Linked DNA regions of Homo sapiens: region 2 is linked to region 1. Evidence: fine-mapped expression QTL. A gene starts in region 1. The other region holds a variant in brackets. All regions are shown on one strand. Distances are between the middles of the regions. Region 1 holds the start of CBX1 (chromobox 1). Region 2 holds the start of LOC124904017 (a long non-coding RNA gene).

Evidence for each region. PIP is the estimated chance that this variant, and not a neighbour inherited with it, causes the effect.
Region 2: its variant is fine-mapped to the expression of CBX1 in whole blood (TOPMed, PIP above 0.99).

What each region holds. Positions count from the first base shown.
Region 1 is chr17:48,097,998-48,105,997 of GRCh38, forward strand. It overlaps CBX1 (chromobox 1), which reads right to left and starts at 3,481. Exons shown (of 5, transcript NM_001127228.2): 1 at 3,271-3,481. RefSeq lists enhancers at 3,214-3,813, 3,640-3,899 and a silencer at 3,220-3,269.
Region 2 is chr17:48,011,334-48,021,869 of GRCh38, forward strand. It overlaps LOC124904017 (a long non-coding RNA gene), which reads left to right and starts at 45. Exons shown (of 2, transcript XR_007065826.1): 1 at 45-260; 2 at 760-907. RefSeq lists enhancers at 231-290, 3,692-4,193, 4,194-4,693, 6,371-6,470 and a silencer at 1,129-1,178. The variant C/T (reference allele first, on the strand shown) is at 4,840.

The DNA of each region.
Region 1 (8,000 bases):
ACGGCCAGTTGCACAGCCTGTATACCTTTTCTATATTTAGTACCAGAGTGAGTACAAAACTGAAGCTAACCATTCTGGGCAACAGAGACTGTCCCCACAAAAAAGAAGCCATGCATGGTGGCATGAGACTGTAGTCCTAGCTACTCAAGAGGCTGTGGTGGGAGGACTGCTTGTGTCCAGGAGGTTGAGGCTTCAGTGAGCCATGATGCCACCACTGCACTCCAGCCTGGCAACAGAGCGACACTCTGTCTTAAAAAAACAAAAAACAAACAAACAAACAAACAAAAAGAAACTAACTGAGGCTAAGACAAACATGGCAAAGCAACAGCTTAACTCTGCCAAATGTCACAGACACAGGACAAGCAAACTACTATGCACATTAATTTGGCTGAGTTCTCAGAATGGATCTCAAAGCTCCCCTATTCATCATTCATTCATCAACAATCTGAACGGCCTACTATGTGCCAGGCACTAATGAACAAGAGGTGCGTCCCCATTTTTTCATTTTTCTTTTTTTGAGACAGAGTTTCGCTCTTGTTGCCCAGGCTGGAGTGCAATAGCGCGATCTCGGCTCATGGCAACCTCTGCCTCCCGGGTTCAAACGATTCTCCTGCCTCAGCCTCCCAAGTAGCTGGGATTACAGGTGTGCACCACCACGCCCAGCTAATTTTGTATTTTTAGTAGAGATGGGGCCAGTATGGCTCCATTTTATGGGAGCCCATAAACTAGCAATTAGCCTTCTACACCAGAAACTCTTCGTGGAAAGAACCTATGAAGTGAAAATCTACCAAATCTAATGCAAAATCTCTTACACCACTGCAGATAGGATTTTTTTTTAAAAAAGGGAGGTTTTGCTAGATAAACCACTAGAGGATGCCAAAATTTAATGAATTATTTTCAAATGGTGTGAACAACAAAGAGAAACATTTTCCTAGTCCTTAAAATGGGCACAAGAATGAGTGCTATCTTTCTTTAGAGGTATAGTTTGTAAGTTATAGGTATCCTGTATTCAGAAATGCAGAAGACCAGGGTAACTTACTTACCACTAGGCTTCTATTTACATTCAAAACTATTTATTTCACACACCATCTATCTACCTATCATCTATCTTTTCTTTTTTTTGAGACAGAGTCTCGCTCTGTTGCCCGGGCTGGAGTGCAGTGGTGCAGATCTCGGCTCACTGCAACCTCTGCCTCCCGGGTTCAAGCGATTCTCCTGCCTCAGCCTCCCGAGTAGCTGGGACTACAGGCATGCGCCACTAGGCCCAGCTAATTTTGTATTTTTAGTAGAGACAGGGTTTCACCATGTTGGTTGGCCAGGATGGTCTCGATCTCTTGACCTCATGATCCGCCCACCTCAGACTCCCAAAGTGCTGGGATGACAGGCTTGAGCCACTGCGCCCGACCCTACTATTTATTTTTTTAATGAGAAACAATTTAGGATACAGCAGCCATTGAAGAAAAATATCACCACAGGGAAAACCGTAAACGACTTCAGGTCCTCCACTCCCGTGAAGCTTCATTAAGGTGCCACCGGTTTCAATACAAGTGCTTTTCAATCACACCACTTTCATATAAAAGTCTATAAGGCACCTAGGGAGGAACACCGGCATTAATTTCCCCATTGTATTCCTGAATCTATTCCAAAGCCTTGGACCTTTCACAATCTTTCCAAACTGCTGATGTGACTCTTAACACAATTGAGGAGGCTACTTTACCCTGGGCTAGGGGTTCTAGTATATAACTGATTATAGCTGAACTTTTTGTAAATTCCACCTCAATTGCGTTAAACCAACACGTCTAAATGTAACACCAATTTATGAAAAACCCTCATTTGAAACTTTGAAAAAGAGGTAAAATATGGCCAGGCGCAGTGGCTCACGCCTATAATCCCAGCACTTTGGGAGGCCGACGCGGGAGGATCACGAGGTCAGGAGTTCGAGACCAGCGTGACCAGTACGGTGAAACCCCGTCTCTACTAAAAATACAAAAATTAGCCGGGCGTGGTGGCGTGTGCCTGTAATCCCAGCTAGTCGGGAGGCTGAGGCAAGAGAATCGCATGAATCCGGGAGGTGGAGGTTGCAGTGAGCCAAGATCGCACCACTGCACTCCAGCCTGGGCAACAGAGGAAGACTCTTCTCAAAAAAAAAAAAAAAAAGAGGTAAAATATAGCTCACTCTATTCAAATTTTCCAACAAGGAAAAGCTGGCTAAAAACAGAAGGGCCCACGAAACAAATATTACCTCACAATCTCACATAATTTTCCTATGTCTCCCAATTTCTCGCACCTCACACGATCTCACAATCTCTCACTACCTCACGCCGTTCCTCAACTATTAACTCATCTACATATTTTTACAATTTCATCACCTTTGTGAGACCAGTTACGATCCCACACAAAAACGTACGGAACTAATTTTGAATCAAAGCAAGAACTGCACTTGGACTTTTTTAACTCCCCAAAGGAATCATGGAGTGAAGGTAGTAGGAAACCTGGAAAACTGAAAAAAGCGTATTCCATCCTTTCTTCGCACATTATTCTTACAGCCTCCCCACTGTAAGGACCCATCAGGATGCAAGGGCGGCCTGCTTTCCCCTTTTTTCTTACATACCTTATAGAAATATTCTCGGGATCTCCGCCCTACTTATCCTAACAGCTCCTCCCCTTCCAGAGTCAGGCCCAGCAAACGCCTGCCCCTCCCCCTCCGTGTCCCCTTTCCCAATTTATTCCACACATCTCCTCCTCCAATCAGCACACCTTGTGCGGCCCTGGGCCCTCTTCCAATTCACTCGACGTTACTCCTCCGTAGTCCTGCAAAGCCAGGTTCCTCTGGCAGTCCCAGCCGGACCCGGCGTCTTCCGAATACAGTTACAAACCTCGGGTTGTGCGGTCGTATGCGCCTCCTCACGCCTATCCAAGCCTCAAGCCTGTCCCCTTCCGCCCTATCCCGCAGCCGCCCAGCCAAGCAACATTGTTCCAGACCACCCGGGCCCCGAAGAGCGGCCCCCAAGTGCTCGGCCCACCCCCAAGCACTCAGTCTCTGGCTCAGGATTCGCGCCCCGCCCTCTCCATCCTTCACGCAGCTGGCACCGACGCCTCAGCGACAGGCGAAGAGCTCAGCGCGGGAAGCGGAGAAGCAGGACGCTGGACCCGGGCGCGCTCCCCGCTCCTAACCTCCGCCTCGAAAGCGCGTTCCCTCACGCAGGGCTCCCGCCGCCGCCGCCGCCGCGCCCCCTCCCCCAGCTCTCCCGCCTCCAGCGGGCTCCTCACCTCAGAGCAGCGCCCAAGAGCCCGAGAGGAATCGGTGCTGCGCTGCTGGCGCGTCGCGTCGGGTCGCCTGGGGGAGTGGCGCCCAGGAAGGCAGCAAGCCGGGTGGCCGCAGTGGCGTCCCTCACTGAAGCGGCGTACCGCAGGCCCCGGCCAACGGCCCTCCCCTCAGCCGAACAAAAGAGCCTCGCAGTCTGCGCTGCCCGCCGCTCGCACCGCGCAGGCGCAACGACCCGCCGCACGGCACCATGGGCCTCGGGGGTCTGTCCAAGACTACAAGGCCCGAAGCGCCGCGCGCCGCGCACGCACAGTAGGCGAGGGTGGTAGGGACTTATAGTTTTTAAACTGTAACGGTGGAGAGATTGCAGCGTAGAGCGTTGTAACCTAGAATATTAGAACATATGGGCCAGGGGCAGTCGCTCACGCCTGTCATCCCAGCACTTTGGGAGGCCGAGGCGGGTGGATCACCTGAGGTCAGGGGTTCGAGACCAGTCTTACCAACAAGGTGAAACCCTGTCTCTACTAAAAATGCAAAAATTAGCCGAGCGTGGTGGCAGGTGCCTGTAGTCCCAGCTACTCAGGAGGCTGAGACAAGAATTGCTTGAACTTGGGAGGCGGAGCTTGCAGTGAGCCGAGATCCAGCCACTGCGATCCAGCCTGGGCGATGGAGCGAGACTCCATCTCAAAAAAAAAAAAAAAAAAAAATTAGAACATATGATTTTTATAAGCGAGCCCCCTGATGCTTGGCCCCCAAAAAATCAACCACTTCTGGACAGTTCTGTAATTCACATCCTCAAAATTTTTGAATCTTAGATTCTTCACCAGAACTTTATCATATCGCCGCTGCCTCAAATTTCCAATGATTTCTTAGTCCTCAATCTCTGCCTCCTCAAATCTCTGTAAAATTCCTACTCACGCCGGCACGGTGGCTCAAGCCTATAATCCCAACACTTGGGGAGGCGGAGGTGGGTGGATCACTTGAGGTCAGGGTTTCAAGACCAGCCTGGCCAACATGGTGAAACCCCATCTCTACTAAAATACAAAAATTAGCTGGGCGTCGTGGCGGGCGCCTGTAGTGCCAGCTACTCGGGAGGCTGAGGGAGGAGAATCGCTTGAACCCAGGAGGTGGAGGTTACAGTGAGCCGAGATCGCGCCATTGCACTCCAGCCTGGGCAACAAGAGCGAAACTTCGTCTAAAAAAAAAAATACTGTTCAGTGTTAAGATTACTTCCCCTTTGAGGTCTTCCCTGATTCCCTAGAGTAGGTTAGGTCCCCCCATAGGCCTCTCATAGCTTCCTGAATTTCCCCCTTTTCACTGGCTGCGCCACAAAAATGTCCTCTTTTTCATTGTAAGTTGTGCTCACCTTTTTCAGTGTCATTAATCTCCGTCAGCACCTTTCACCCAATCATCCCAAGGAAACACACAATTAGGAAAAAAACATGTTTTTAAGCCACAATATAACTAAAGTTTTATTTTTTTATTTTAAAGTATCCTTCTAATCAGGAGGAAGAGGGAAACTCTATTGCACTCTACCCCAAAAGGCAAGAGTTTGCATTTATAAGACAGTTTTGCTGATGCAGGCACTGTTCAGGGCAGGAGTTTGCATTTATAAGACAGTTTTGCTGATGCAGGCACTGTTCACGGCTCTGGAGAACTGTCATGTAAGAAAAACCCAGCCCAGCAATATCATAATAGAGTTTAGTTAAAAGGGCTTCAAGAAAGCACAGAGAAGATGAGAGGTGAAGCCAGCTGGACTTCCTGGGTCGAGTGGGGACTTGGAGAACTTTTCTGTCTTACAAGAGGATTGTGAAATGCACCAATCAGCGCTCTATACCTAGCAAGGGGATTGTAAAATATACCAATCAGCACTCTGTAAAAACACACCAATCAGCCCTCTGTAGCTAGCAAGAGGATTGTAAAATGCACCAATCAGCACTCTGCAAAATGCACCAATCAGCGCTCTGTAAAATGCAGGAATCTAAAAGTAGCCAATCACAGGGAGGATTGAAAAAAGGGCACTCTGATAGGACAGAAATAGCAAATGGGCAGGGACAAACAAGGGTGTAAAAGCTGGCCCCCTGCCCCCCACCCATTCCTGTTAGCCCGCAGCAGCAACCTGCTCAGGTCGGTTTCCACGCTATGGAAGCCTTGTTCTTTCGCGTTCTTTCGCTCTTCACAACAAATCTTGCTGCTGCTCACTCTTTGGGTCCCTGCCAGCTTTAAGAGCTGTTTTTAACACCATGAAGGTCCGCGGCTTCATTGTTTAAGTCAGGGAGACCACAAACCCACCGGAAGGAATCAACTCCGGACACAAAGAGAGCAATTCTTCCTGAAACATTTGGGCTGGGTTTCTAGGAAGAAGCAAGTGAGAAGCAAGCATCTCCTCACTTCCTCCTGTAGTGTACTGTTTTTGACTGATGATGATGAGAAAATTAGTTGTAATGATAATTAGCTACTATTAATGAGTGCTTTTTTTGTTTTTTTTCCCTGAGGTGGAGTCTTGCACTGTCGCCCAGGCTGGAGTGCAATGGCAAGATCACGGCTCACTGCAACCTCCGCCTCCCGGGTTCATGCACTTCTCCTGCCTCAGCCTCCCAAGTAACTGGGATTACAAGTGCATGCCACCATGCACAGCTAATTTTTTTGTATTTTAGTAGAGACGGGGGTTTCACCATGTTGCCCAGGCTGGTCTTGAACTCCTGAGTTCAGGCATCCACCCGCCCAAAGTGCTAAGATTACAGGCGTGAGCCACCACTTCTGGTTTATTTTTTATTTTATTTTATTTATTTATTATTATTATTATTTTTTGAGACGGAGTCTAACTCTGTCACCCAGGCTGGAGTGCAGTGGCATGATCCGGTTCACTGCAACCTCCACCTCCCAGGTTCAAGCAATTATCCAGCCTTGGTCTCCCGAGTAGCTGGGATTACAGGTGCCCACCACCATGCCCAGCTAATTTTTTTGTTTCCCGAGACTGAGTCTTGCTCTGTCACCCAGGCTGGAGGGCAGTGGTGAGATCTCGGCTCACTGCAACCTCCACCTCCCGGGTTCAAGCAATTATCCAGCCTCAGTCTCCTGAGTAGTTGGGTTTACAGTCGCCCGCCACCGTGCCTGGCTAATTTTTGTAATTTTAGTAGAGGGAGGTTTCACCATGTTGGCCAGACTGGTCTTGAACTCCTGACCTCAAGTGGTCCCACTGCCTCCGCCTACCAAAGTGCTGGGATTACAGGTGTGAGCCACCGCACCCAGCCTTAATTTTTGTATTTTTAGTAGAGACGGGTTTTCACTGTGTTTTCAGGCTGGTCTTGAACTCCTAACCTTGTGATCCCCCCGTTGCAGCCTCCCAAAGTGCTGGCGTTACAAGTGTGAGCCACCACACCCGGCCTATTTTTTTTTTTTTTTTTTTTTGAGACAGGATGTTACTCTCTCTCCTAGGCTGAAGTGCAGTAGTGCAATCACGGTTCACTGTAGTCTCAACTTCCCAGGCCCAAGTCATCTTTCCCCCTCAGCCTCCTGAGTAGCTTTGAGCCACACCTTACTCAGCTAATTTTTTCTATTTTGTAGAGCCAGAGTCTTGTCACATTGTCCAGGTTGGTCTGGAACGCCTGGGCTCAAGCAGGCCTTGACCTGTCTCGGCCTCCCAAAGTGCTGGGATTACAGATGTGAGCCACCATGCCTGGCCATAAATTCTTGATTGATTTAATCTCATTTCTATCTAACACCCAAACCATATTTCTGTCTACATAAAATGCTGCCATCCCTAATTCCTTGTATTGAGCTGAATTCTGCTCCCCATGGAGATGCCACCTATTTTCCCTAATTCTGGCATCTGTAGCCACACAGTAAGCCTTATCTTTCTTTCATATGTTTCTTCTAATATTGAAGTTCAGCCATCATGTTCCCTGAGGTCTCTATTTAAATGTCATCATTTTCCTAAACTGTACATTACAGGGCAACAGTTTCAGATGTATCATATTTATTGTGTTAGTAAATTCTGGCTCTTATATGTGTGTTTCAAGGTGGAGAGGGCCATCACTGCCTTTGTCCTGTATACCATTCTTTTTTTTTTTTTTTTTTTTTTTTGAGACGGAGTCTCACTTTGTCACTAGGCTGGAGTGCAGTGGCATGATCTTGGCTCACTGAAGCCTCTGCCTCCCGGGTTTAAGTGATTCTCCTGCCTCAGTCTCCCGACTAGCTGGAATTACAATCACACACCACCAGATGGTCTCAATCTCTTGAGAGTTCAAGACCAGGCTGGGCAATATAGTGAGACCTCATCTATACAAATAATAATAAAAAATTAGTCGGGCATGGTGGCACACACCTGTGGTCCCAGCTACTTAGGAGGCTTGGGTGGCAGGATCACTTGAGCCCAGGAGGTTGAGGCTGTCTTAATATTAAGACATGTGAGGCTAGGCACGGTGGCTCATGCCTGTAATCCCAGCACTTTGGGAAGCCAAGGCGGGTGGATCATGAGGTCAGGAGTTCAAGACCAGCCTGACCAATATGGTGAAACCCCATCTCTACTAAAAATACAAAAATTAGCTGGGCATGGTGGCGCGTGCCTGTAATCCCAGCTAGTCAGTAGGCAGTTTCTTGAGACTTTCCTGATGAGATCAGTGATGAATTTAATAAATGTGATTTTTTTTTACATTGAATAAATGCATCAACATTGGCTGATCTGCATAACTCTGTACCAGTATTTTCTAAATGGCTTGACTCCCTATCACAC
Region 2 (10,536 bases), 85 kb before region 1:
CTCACAAACTGGGTCGTCAAATTTGAGTTTCCAAGGGGGCTCTCAGTTCCCCCATGACTCTAGAGAAGGAAAAATAGAAAGCATTATAGGTGTTCAGACTGGTCACAGAAGACATCTTCGCAAGGCAGTTCCTATCACAGCCAGCTGATGTCACCAACGGGGCATGGGGGAGATGGAGGAAAGAAACAACAGAAGAGACGAAGAGGAAGGAGGGACGACGGAGCAAAAGTGAAGACATGATATACGGCCGAGGACATAGGGTGAGAGGAAAGAAAAGAAAAGGGTGGAGGAAAGAGAGAGGAAGGAGAATTCGAAGCATAGGCTTTTGCCTACTTCCCTTCTCCCGTCCCTAACACACGGATGAGAGCTTCTCGCCTCTTTCTATATCCAGAAAGTATGGAGACCCCTCACTCTCCGACCTCGGTGCTATCTCCAGGGCCCAGAGGGGCAAACTGGGGAGGGGAGGGGAGACTTGTAAACATGAGTGCAATTTTCCTCTGGTTTCCCCAGAAGTTGCCCGTTTCCTGGGCCATTCCTCTCCAGGCAGCCCTCGGGAGTTCCCGCCGCACCGACCCCAGCCAGGCTCCAGCGGTCCCCTCTCTTCCATCCCGCCATCTCTCTGAGGGGCTTGCGTCTCCCTGATGCGCTCTGGTGTCTGTCTGAGCCATCCATCAAGGATGGCAGGCTGGGGGAAACATGAAAAAGAGCCTATTTGGCTATTAACATCCCCTCCCGCTTTGTTGTCTCTCTCCTCCCCAGTCCCCTACCAGCCCCTCACCCAACCCCTCCCTTTTCCCCTTTTGCAGGAGACAAAACCAGACTGACAAGCTGAAGACTCAAACATTAATCAAACTGCGCTCCGGAACAACCTTTCCCTCGCATTAATAAATACATTTGCGGCCCCTCATTGGACAGTTGGCCTAATTTGTTTCTTTTTCGCGGGGTGGGGGGAGCAGCCGCGCCCGCGCCCCCTGGCTCCCAGCAGCCCTGTGCAAAGCAGATGTTCCGCCGCAGACGCGGAGCTGCGCCTAGCCGCGCGCCCCGGAGGCCGCGGTTGCCATGGCGACGGCGGGGCCGCCTGCTGTCGCCGAGCACGCTGTCTCGCCCGCTCAGTGATTACCTCCATCTCCGCAGTGTTCGCCATACGGCCCGGATTCTAATCAGATCCCCTCCCCCCTCCCCCCTCCCTCCTCCGCCCGGCCCACTACCCCTTCAGCTCCCACAGCCTTGGGACTCATTGAGAACTGCCCGCGCATCCCTGACGGTGCCCAGGAAGGCAGAGTGGGGGAGAGACGACCCGCACTCAGCCTGTGTTTAGGGAGGACTGGACCCAGTGCGGTTCGCAAGAGGTTCTGTGTCCCCAGGCCATCTTTGGTGACATTGAACCCCGGGAGTCCAGCTCCCAGCACTGTCCCCTGAAGACTCCTCCTCCTCCCCCTTGGTATGTTGAGGCAGGTCACCTGAGGTCCCCAAGAGAGGTAAGGCAGGCAACCATAGTTCCCCTTCCATCTGGACAAGACTCTTCCATTCCCGTTCTGTAAGTGCTGGGAATGATTTCATCTGCACAGCCTGGAGGTGGGCAGGGTTTCTGGAACCATCAGAGCATCAGCCCAAGCCATGCTTCTTGTGCTAAACGCAGTGGTTTCTCAGACTAAAGGGAGGAGTGGAGAAGCACAGGTCTGGTACTCTAGCCACTCAGGCCTGGCCTGAGTTAGGCCCATGGTTATTTGACCCCCTCCACATCACACACACACTATGCTTTCCATGCTTCCAGGCTGAGGGTGGTTTTTTATAGGTGGTCTCAGATGTACCCCCGGCTGGCAGCCTTGCAAGGGATGCACTGCGAACCCTCTCCGGACTTAGTAATGAACAAGGGGCAGTGCGATGCCTCGGGGCCTTGGGGTACCTGGCTGTCTTTCTGTTAGGGGAGGAGGGTCCTTTCCCTGAGACTCTGAGGCTTCACTATAAGATCCCAAGCATAAACATCCCTGGCTTTAGGAGAAACGAGGTAATAACAGAAGCCAGAGGCAAGAGAGCACAGAGAGGTTGGGAGTGAGGCCGGCAGGGAAGAAGGCAGATTTGGGACAGGAAGATGAGATTCTGGGTTCAGATTCCACCTTCCAGCCTAAATCACAAGGCAGGAAGCCTGAGGTGGTTGGCGTAAAAAATAATTTTGCTCAAGGGGAGGAACCCTTTGGAGTGACGAAAAGTAGAAACACTCATGTTCCAGAAGTGTTACCAATGCCAGGGAAAGCTTGCTTAAACACTCTCACAACATCCCAAATGCCAGCCTCCTTCCAATGTTCGCCGGAAAGTTCTGAGCCGTATTAGCAAATAAGAAGAAATGCCAGGCTGAGCTCTCTCTCCGAGGCTACTAAGAATCCTCATGCTAGAGCTGCAAGGGCCTTTAGAGATCTGGACCGATCCTTCATTTTACAGATGAAAAAACTGAAATCCAGAGAGGAATGACAACTGGCCAAGATCCCACAGCTAGAAATAGTGGAACCAGGTTTTTATTTCTGCAATAGTGGCCACTGTTCTGCCCTCTTTCCTCTCTCAGAGGCAACCAGCTGGGAAACTCTGGTTTCCAAGTCCTCTCTCAGAGGCAACCGGCTGGGAAACTCTGGTTTCCAAGAGGCACAGACAGAATCCCAAAAATCTCAGGCCTTTCCCAGCCCCTAGTCACCCTGCCTCCTGAAGGCCTGTCACCTACCTGAAGGCAGCTCCACTAGAGTGACAGCTCCTGTTGGCCCTGGCTGGCTCAGGGCCTCTGGGGAGGGTATGGGGGGATGGTGGGTTGGGAGAGAACTTTTGTGGGGCCTCCTTCAGTCAATGGTCTACAGCTCTGTCTTTGTCTGTCTGTCACTCAGAAGGGAACTGCTGAAGGGAGAGGTCAGGCTGGTCGGTAGAAAGGGAGAAAGAGGCCTATCCCTGTCAGAGAGGGGTTGGGAAGAAGGCAGGCAAGGGGACCGAAGCTCCTTCAACCTCCTCATCCTCTCCCACTCCAACTCCTGGGCTGTTTCCCCTAGGGAATTCCAGGCTTTGCTCATTTTAGGACCAGGGCAGCAACTGCACACAAAGGCCCTTCTCTTCTTGCCGTGTGAAATCCTGGCTCCCCATTGGAGAGCTACTCCCTTACCCTGCCCTGTCTGCAAGAAGAGGCTGCCAAGGGGTCTAACTCAAACCTACAAGGCAGGGAGTTCCATTGCGTTCCCCTTCCATGCAACCAGCACCCTGACTCCACCCCTGTGCTTGCCCGTGTCCCTGCTCGCGCCTGCCACATCAGATTCCCCAGGCTCCCTCACCCCCCCGTGCAATTTAAAGCAGATTCATCCCCTGAGAGCCCCAGTTTCCAGGCCACCCTAGCTTCTACTGTACACTATCCTATCTCCCCAGATTGTGCTGTTTCCAGTCTCCCCTTGTTCCCTCTGCACACGAATCTTCCTCCCCAGATTCAACTGTTTTCAGGCTACTCCCTCTGTCTGCCCCCTGTACACGACTGTCTCCCCAGATCCTGCTGTTTCTAGGTTCCCCCATATTTCCCCGGTATACAAATTGGCCTCCCTGGATTCAGCAGTTTCCAGAAGCCCCTTGCTCTCTCACTAGGCAGTTCCATCTCCCCAGATTCAGCTGTTTTCAGGCTCCCTTCATTTGCCCTGTACACAGGTACCCCTCCCAGGTTCTGCTGTTTCTAGGCTTCCCGATTTCCCTTGTATACGCATCAGTTTCTAGCTTATGTTGATCCCAGCTGCCTAAGGGATTCAGCAGGTTTAGGGAGAGTGGAAGGAAGAAGAGAGTCAGAAAGAGGAGGAGAAGAAAGATGGTCATCAGGGAAGCTCCGGATTTCTCTTGTGACCCTAAGCAGCTTGCATATGACAGCCTCTGGGCCTCTGCCTCTACAAATAGGTCCCTTAAGGCCATCTGCCCTGGGATACCCCAATCCCCTCCCCATTGCTGCTGCCCAGGATCTGAGCTTTAAGTTGGACATCCTCCGGAGGGCCCCCGTCTTGGCAGGAGTGCTTATGCTTGCATGAGGTGGGACAGGCAAGAGCCTTCCCAAGCCAGGAGTTCCCTTGTCTCTCCTCTGCTATTTCCTTCTTGCCTTCCCAGCACCCACGCCCGCCCCCTTTTTTTTTTCTTTTTGAGTTGGAGTTTCACTGTGTCGCCCAGGCTGGAGTGTAGTGGCGTGATCTCGGCTCGCTACAACCTCTGCCTCATGGGCTCAAGCAACAATCCTGCCTCCGCCTCCGGAGTAGCTGGGACTACAGGCGTGTGCCACCATGCCTAGCTAATTTTTGTATTTTTAGTAGAGACAAGGTTTCACCATGTTGGCCAGGCTGGTGAACTCCTGACCGCAGGTGATCCACCTGCCTTGGCCTCCCAAAGTGGTGGGATTACAGGCGTGAGCCACTGTGCCCACCCCCACCCCTTGTCTCTTTCTCATGTGTTGCACCTTAGCTCTCCTCAATTTATCCACATACAATTTATTTTATTTTATTTATTTATTATTTTTTTTTTGAGATGGAGTCACAAAGTGCTGGGATTATAGGCGTGAGCCACCACGCCTGGCCTTTTGTTTTATTTTTGAAACAGTCTTACTCTGTCGCCCAGGCTGGAGAGCAGTGGCATCATCTCATCTCACTGCAACCTCTGACTCTGGGGTTCAAGTGATTCTCCTCCTTCAGCATCCTGTATCCACATAGAATTTAAAGGAAACTCCAAATGCACTCCCAGAACTAAAGGGAGTACAGAACTAAAGAGTCACACTTTTTTTTTTTTTTTTTTTTTTTTTTTTTTCAGTTTTCAAGATGGAGTAGTATCAATCTCAGGCCCTGGAAA[C/T]TGCCCCTGGACTAGTTTCCTGGCATGCTTCTCCAGCCTTTGTAAACAACTGTTTCATCTGCAGACTCCCTGCATCCTAATCCTCCTTGGGGCTGGAGGTGGGAGGGTATGGGAAGTGTTCTGCAAGGTACTCCAGTCTTCTTATCTTCTCTGACTCATTTAGCTACTGCCTGCAAAGTTTCCACTGGAATCTGGGGAAATGGTCTGATCCCTCATCGCCTTCCTCCATATACAGCTGCCTACCCATTAGACTAATCCCAGCCATTTGTCAGTCACGATGCTCCATCATACTGGCCCCAGCAAACTTTCTGGTTTCACTAAGAAATAAATAGGAAGGGCAGGCCCACTGGGTCCAGGATAGTGCCCTACAAGGAGACCTTTCTTCAAAATGAAATCCATACCTGGGTTCAGGCCGCATTGCTTCTGCTCCCAGCACCCGAGAGCATCCTCAATCACCTCACAAGTGGGAATGACAACGCCTGCCTCCTTCACTGAGATAGAGGTACAAAAAAATTACATGTGTGAAAGAAATAGAATACTTTTACGGATCCTGACAAATGTGAGTTTACATAAATCCTATTAAAAGAACATTGTGCAAGAAGCTTTTCTGTGTCTTGTATATAAATTATCCTCAGAAAAGAAGTGCAGCTGATGGGACTCACTTATTAATTTCATTATTTAAAAAACAGACGTGCTGGGCGTGGTGGCTTATGTCGGTAATCCCAGCACTTTGGGAGGCCAAGGCGGGAGGATCACTTGAGGTCAGGAGTTTGAGACTAGCCTGGCCAATATGGTGAAACCCTGTCTCTACTAAAAATACAAAAATTAGCTGGGCATGGTGTTGTGTGCCTCTAGTCCCAGCTACTTGGGAGGTTGAAGCACGAGAATCACTTGAACCCAGGAGGCACATGCAGCAGTGAGTCAGGATGGCGCCACTTACTCCAGCCTGGGCGACAGAGCAAGATTCTGTCTCAATAAATAAATAAATAAATAAATAAATAAATAAATAAATAAATAAAATAAAAATTAGAAAACGCTATTGGAGCCAGCCATGGTGGCTCCCAGCACTTTGGGAGGCCGAGGTGGGCAGATTGCTTGAGCTCAGGAGTTCGAGACCAGCCTGGGCAACATGGTGAAACCCCGTCTCTACTAAAAATACAAAAATTAACCAGGCATGGTGGCAGGTGCCTGTAATCCCAGCTACTCAAGAGGCTGAGGCAGGAGAATTACTTGAACCTGGGAGGTGGAGGTTGCAGTGAGCAGAGACTGTGCCACTGTACACTAGCCTGGGTGATAGAGTGAGACTGTTAAAAAAAAAAAAAGCATGCAAAGAAAAATGTGCATTGGGGTTTTGAGTCAAGAGCCCTGCTATTTTTTCTTACTGCCCAGGAAGGCACTCCTTGTCAAGGGAATTCTATTTATAAACGTTATATTCTCATGATCTGCAGAAAACACAGGGCAGAAAGAGGAAGAGGTAAGAGGGTTCCAGGAAACCCTCTTTCTTGTCTCAGTTCTGTCCCTTGTTAGCTGTGTGACATTGGGTAAGTCAACCTTTGAGTTTCACTTTCCTAATCTGAAGGCCTCTAGCTTGCTCTCCCAGAAAGATCCACTTTTTTTTTTCTACCTTAGAGTATAAACTTCAGTCAGTGCCCAAGCCCCTCAGACCCCTTCCTCAACCTCCCAGCTACCTTGGGGAATGGGTCCAAATCTCCAGAGTTGGAGGAAAAGGTCTGTATTTGTTTTCTGTTTGTTTGTTTGAGACAGAGTCTCACTCCATCACCCAGGCTGTAGTGCAGTGGCGCAGTCTCGGCTCACTGCAACCTCCATCTCTTGGGTTCAAGCAATTCTCCTGCCTCACCCTCCCGAGTAGCTGGGATTACAGGCATGTGTCACCATGCCCAGCTAATTTTTGTATTTTTAGTAGAAACAGGGTTTCACCATGTTGGCCATGTTGGTCTCGAACTCCTGACCTAAAGTGATCTGCCCACCTCGGCCTCCCAAAGTGCTGGGATTACAGGAGCGAGACACCATGCCCAGCCAGGTCTGTATTTCTTGACAGTGTTTCTTGATCAGAGGCCCTGTTTTCTCAGGACAATTGCTGTCCCAGGTGCCCAGGGTCTCTCACCTTCGTGTTCCCATGGAGGTGCTCACAGCTCTGATGTGGGAACCCCCAAGGTTCTCCTCTGTGGTCTAGGGAGTATCTAGGAATGGACTGCAATGCTCAGCACTGTGAGATAACTCCTGCCCAATAGAGAGTAGAGATGCCCTCTAGGTCTGGTTCCTGCAAGCCTTTTCATAGTCCCGTCACTGATCCCGGCCAGGCTAAGGATGAAAGAGGGGCTTGTCTTACAGCACCATCTTCTGGGCAAACCTGTGAGAGCTACTTCTTCTTGCTGCCATCTGGAGAACACTGAGATTTTGGGGGACTTTGGGTCCCAGAAGTTTTGTTTGTTTGTTTGTTTGAGATGGAGTCTCGCTCTGTCACCCAGGGCTGGAGTGCAGTGGTGCGATCTTGGCTCACTGCAACTTCCATCTCCCGGGTTCAAGCGATTCTCCTGCCTCAGCCTCTGAGTAGCTGGGACCAGAGGCGCACGTCACTATGCCCAGCTAATTTTTGTATTTTTAGTAGAGACGGGGTTTCACCATGTTGGTCAGGCTTGTCTCAAACTTCTGACCTCGTGATCTGCCCACCTCGGCCTCCCAAAGTGCTGGGATTACAGGTGTGAGCCACCACGCCCGGCCGATTCCAGAAGTTTTTATCTTACCTGTTTCCCCAAGATAAATTAATTCTGGACTTTTCCAGCCATCTCTTAGGAGAGGATGTTCCAAGAGCCCTCCAACCTTCCAAACACAAGGCTGCTAGGAATGGTAAGCAGCTGAAACCAGTCTTCCAATCATTCCACCCAGAACCTGAGTCCTCACCTACTCACCCCATATATCCCCACCCCAGAACACCCTGTCACTCACTAAGAAGCTGTTGTCTGGAAGCAAGGTTATAGCCTCATCACTTCCAGAGTTTTCTTCTATCCTCAAGTTTATTTGTTTGTTTGTTTCAGATGAGGGCTCACTGGCAGCCATGAGAGTAAAACACATATTTTCAATCTCTTAAAAATCAGGTGTCTGGATTGGCTGTGATGGCTCATGCCTGTAATCCCAGCACTTTGGGAGGCTGACTTGGGTGGATCGCTTGAGTCCAGGAGTTCAAGACCAGCCTGGGCAACATGGCAAAATCCTGTCTCTACAATAAACAAAAAATTAGCCGGGTGTGGTGGCATGTGCCTGTAGTCCCAGCTACCTGGAGGTTGAGGCTGCAGTGAGCCATGATCACGCCACTGTACTCCAACCTAGGCGACAGAGCAAAACTCTGTCCCTTAGGAAAAAAAAAAAAGGCTAGGCATGGCGGCTCAATCCTGTAATCCCAGCACTTTGGGAGGCTGAGGCAGGAGGATCACTTGAGCCCAGGAGTTTGAGAACAGCCTGGACAACAAAGTGAGACCCCCATCTCCCTACCAAAAAAAAAAAAGCAAAAAAAAAAAAAGCAAGGTGTCGTGGTGTGCACCTATAGTCCAAGCTACATGGGAAGCTGAAGTAGGAGGATCACTTCTCCCCAGGAAATCAAGGCTGCAGTGAACCGTATTCATGCCACTGCACTCCAGGCTGGGTGACAGAGCAAGACCCAGTCTCAAAAAAAAAAAAAAAAAATCAGATGTCTAGACAAAGAGAAATTGTGGATCTGGTCAAATGGAATCAGATCCCTCTTGCTACTTCTTTTTCTTTCATTTGAAGTGTATGTGTCTATTTTCAGAGTGGGGTACGTGAGAGTGATAAGAGGGCACTAAATATATAAGATATAAAGTAGACTTGTGTTTTTTTTTGTTTGTTTGTTTTTTGTTTTTTTGAGACGGAGTTTCGCTCTTGTTGCCCAGGCTGGAGTGCAATGGTGCAATCTCAGCTCACTGAAACCTCCACCTCCCGGGTTCAAGCAATTCTCCTGCCTCAGCCTCCCGAGTAGCTGGAATTACAGGCACCTGCCACCATGCCTGGCTAATTTTTTTTTTTTTTTTTTTTGTATTTTTAGTAGAGACGGGGGTTTCACCATCTTGGCCAGGCTGGTCTTGAACTCCTGACCTTGTGATCCACCTGCCTTGGCCTCCCAAAGTGCTGGGATCACAGGCATGAGCCACCGTGCCCGGCCGACTTGTTATTTTTAAACATACTTTTCAGAACCTAAATATTCAGATCATTGTCCCTGACAAAATGGTCCTTTTGGAGGGCCTTTTTTGGAATGATTGCCTGCAATTATCTGAATTAATTCAAGCACCAACTCTTCAAATTCTGAGAGTGGACTTGATTTTTGCAAGCTGCTTGGTGAGTAAGATCAGCAATCAAGCTGGGTGGTACTGTTTTAGATCAAGAATGAGAAGTGACTGTAATGAAAATATTTCGTTTTGGGGGTCATAAATTGACCCTGAATTCCTGTTCTCTTCTTTAACCCAGGTTCCATGTTGCTAGCAGAGTTCCTCCCTCAAAACATAGAGCTGATATCACTTAACAGCTTGAAAATCTTCAGTGGTTCCCTATTACCTTCAGAACACAGGCCAAGTTCTTTACTGACTTTTTGTTTTGTTTTGTTTTGTTTTTTTGAGATGGAGTTTCGTTCTTGTTGCCCAGGCTGAAGTGTAATGGCACGATCTTGGCTCACCGAAACCTCTGCCTCCTGGGTTCAAGCGATTCTCCTGCCTCAGCCTCCCGAGTAGCTGGGATTACAGGCATGCACCACCACACCCTGCTAATTTTGTATTTTTAGTAGAGACAGGGTTTCTCCATGTTGGTCGGGCTGGTCTCGATCTCAGGTGATCCACCCACCTTGTCCTCCCAAAGTACTGGGATTACAGGTGTGAGCCATGGCGACTGGCCACAAGCCAAGTTCTTTAGCTCTGTGGTTGGGGTAAAGAAGAGCCAGCAATGGAGTCAGACCAGAATGGGTTTAAATCCCACCTATGAGCTCTGAGGCAAGTTATTCAGTCTCTCAGACTCTCAGCTCTCTCATTTGTAAAAAGAAGGCTAACGGGCCAGGCGCGGTATACCCAACACTTTGGGAGGCCAAAGTGGACAGATCGCTTGAGCTCAGGAGTTTGAGACCAGCCTGGGCAACATGGTGAGACCTCGTGTCTATTAAAAAATTTTTAAAAATTAGCTGGGTGTGGTGGTACATGCCTGTGGTCCCAGCTACTCGGGGGACTGAGGTAAGAGGATAGCTTGAGCCCCGGAGGTTGAGGCTGCAGCGAGCCTATCAATACCTACTTTGTTAGGTTGTTTTGAGGACAATGGTAATTTTAAGGTGTATATAGTAGCAAACTCAATAAATAGCAGTCATTCTTCAGCATGGCATTCATTGCTCACTGCGACCCAGTTGCAACCTATCTAGAAGAAACCTCAGATCTCAACACACTCCCTGCAGACACACACCATTCCAGTTACATTTGCCTACTGAAATTCCTTAAACAATACAGAGATTTTTTTTCTTTTTCTTTTTTTTTTTTTTTTTTTTTTTTTTAGACAGGGTCTTGCTCTGTCCTCCAGGCTGGAGTGCAGTGGCATGATCTCAGCTCACAGCAGCCTCAGCCTCCTGGACTCAAGTGATCCTTCCACCTCAGCCCACGGTGCCCCCTCTCCCCCCAGTAGCTGGGACTACAG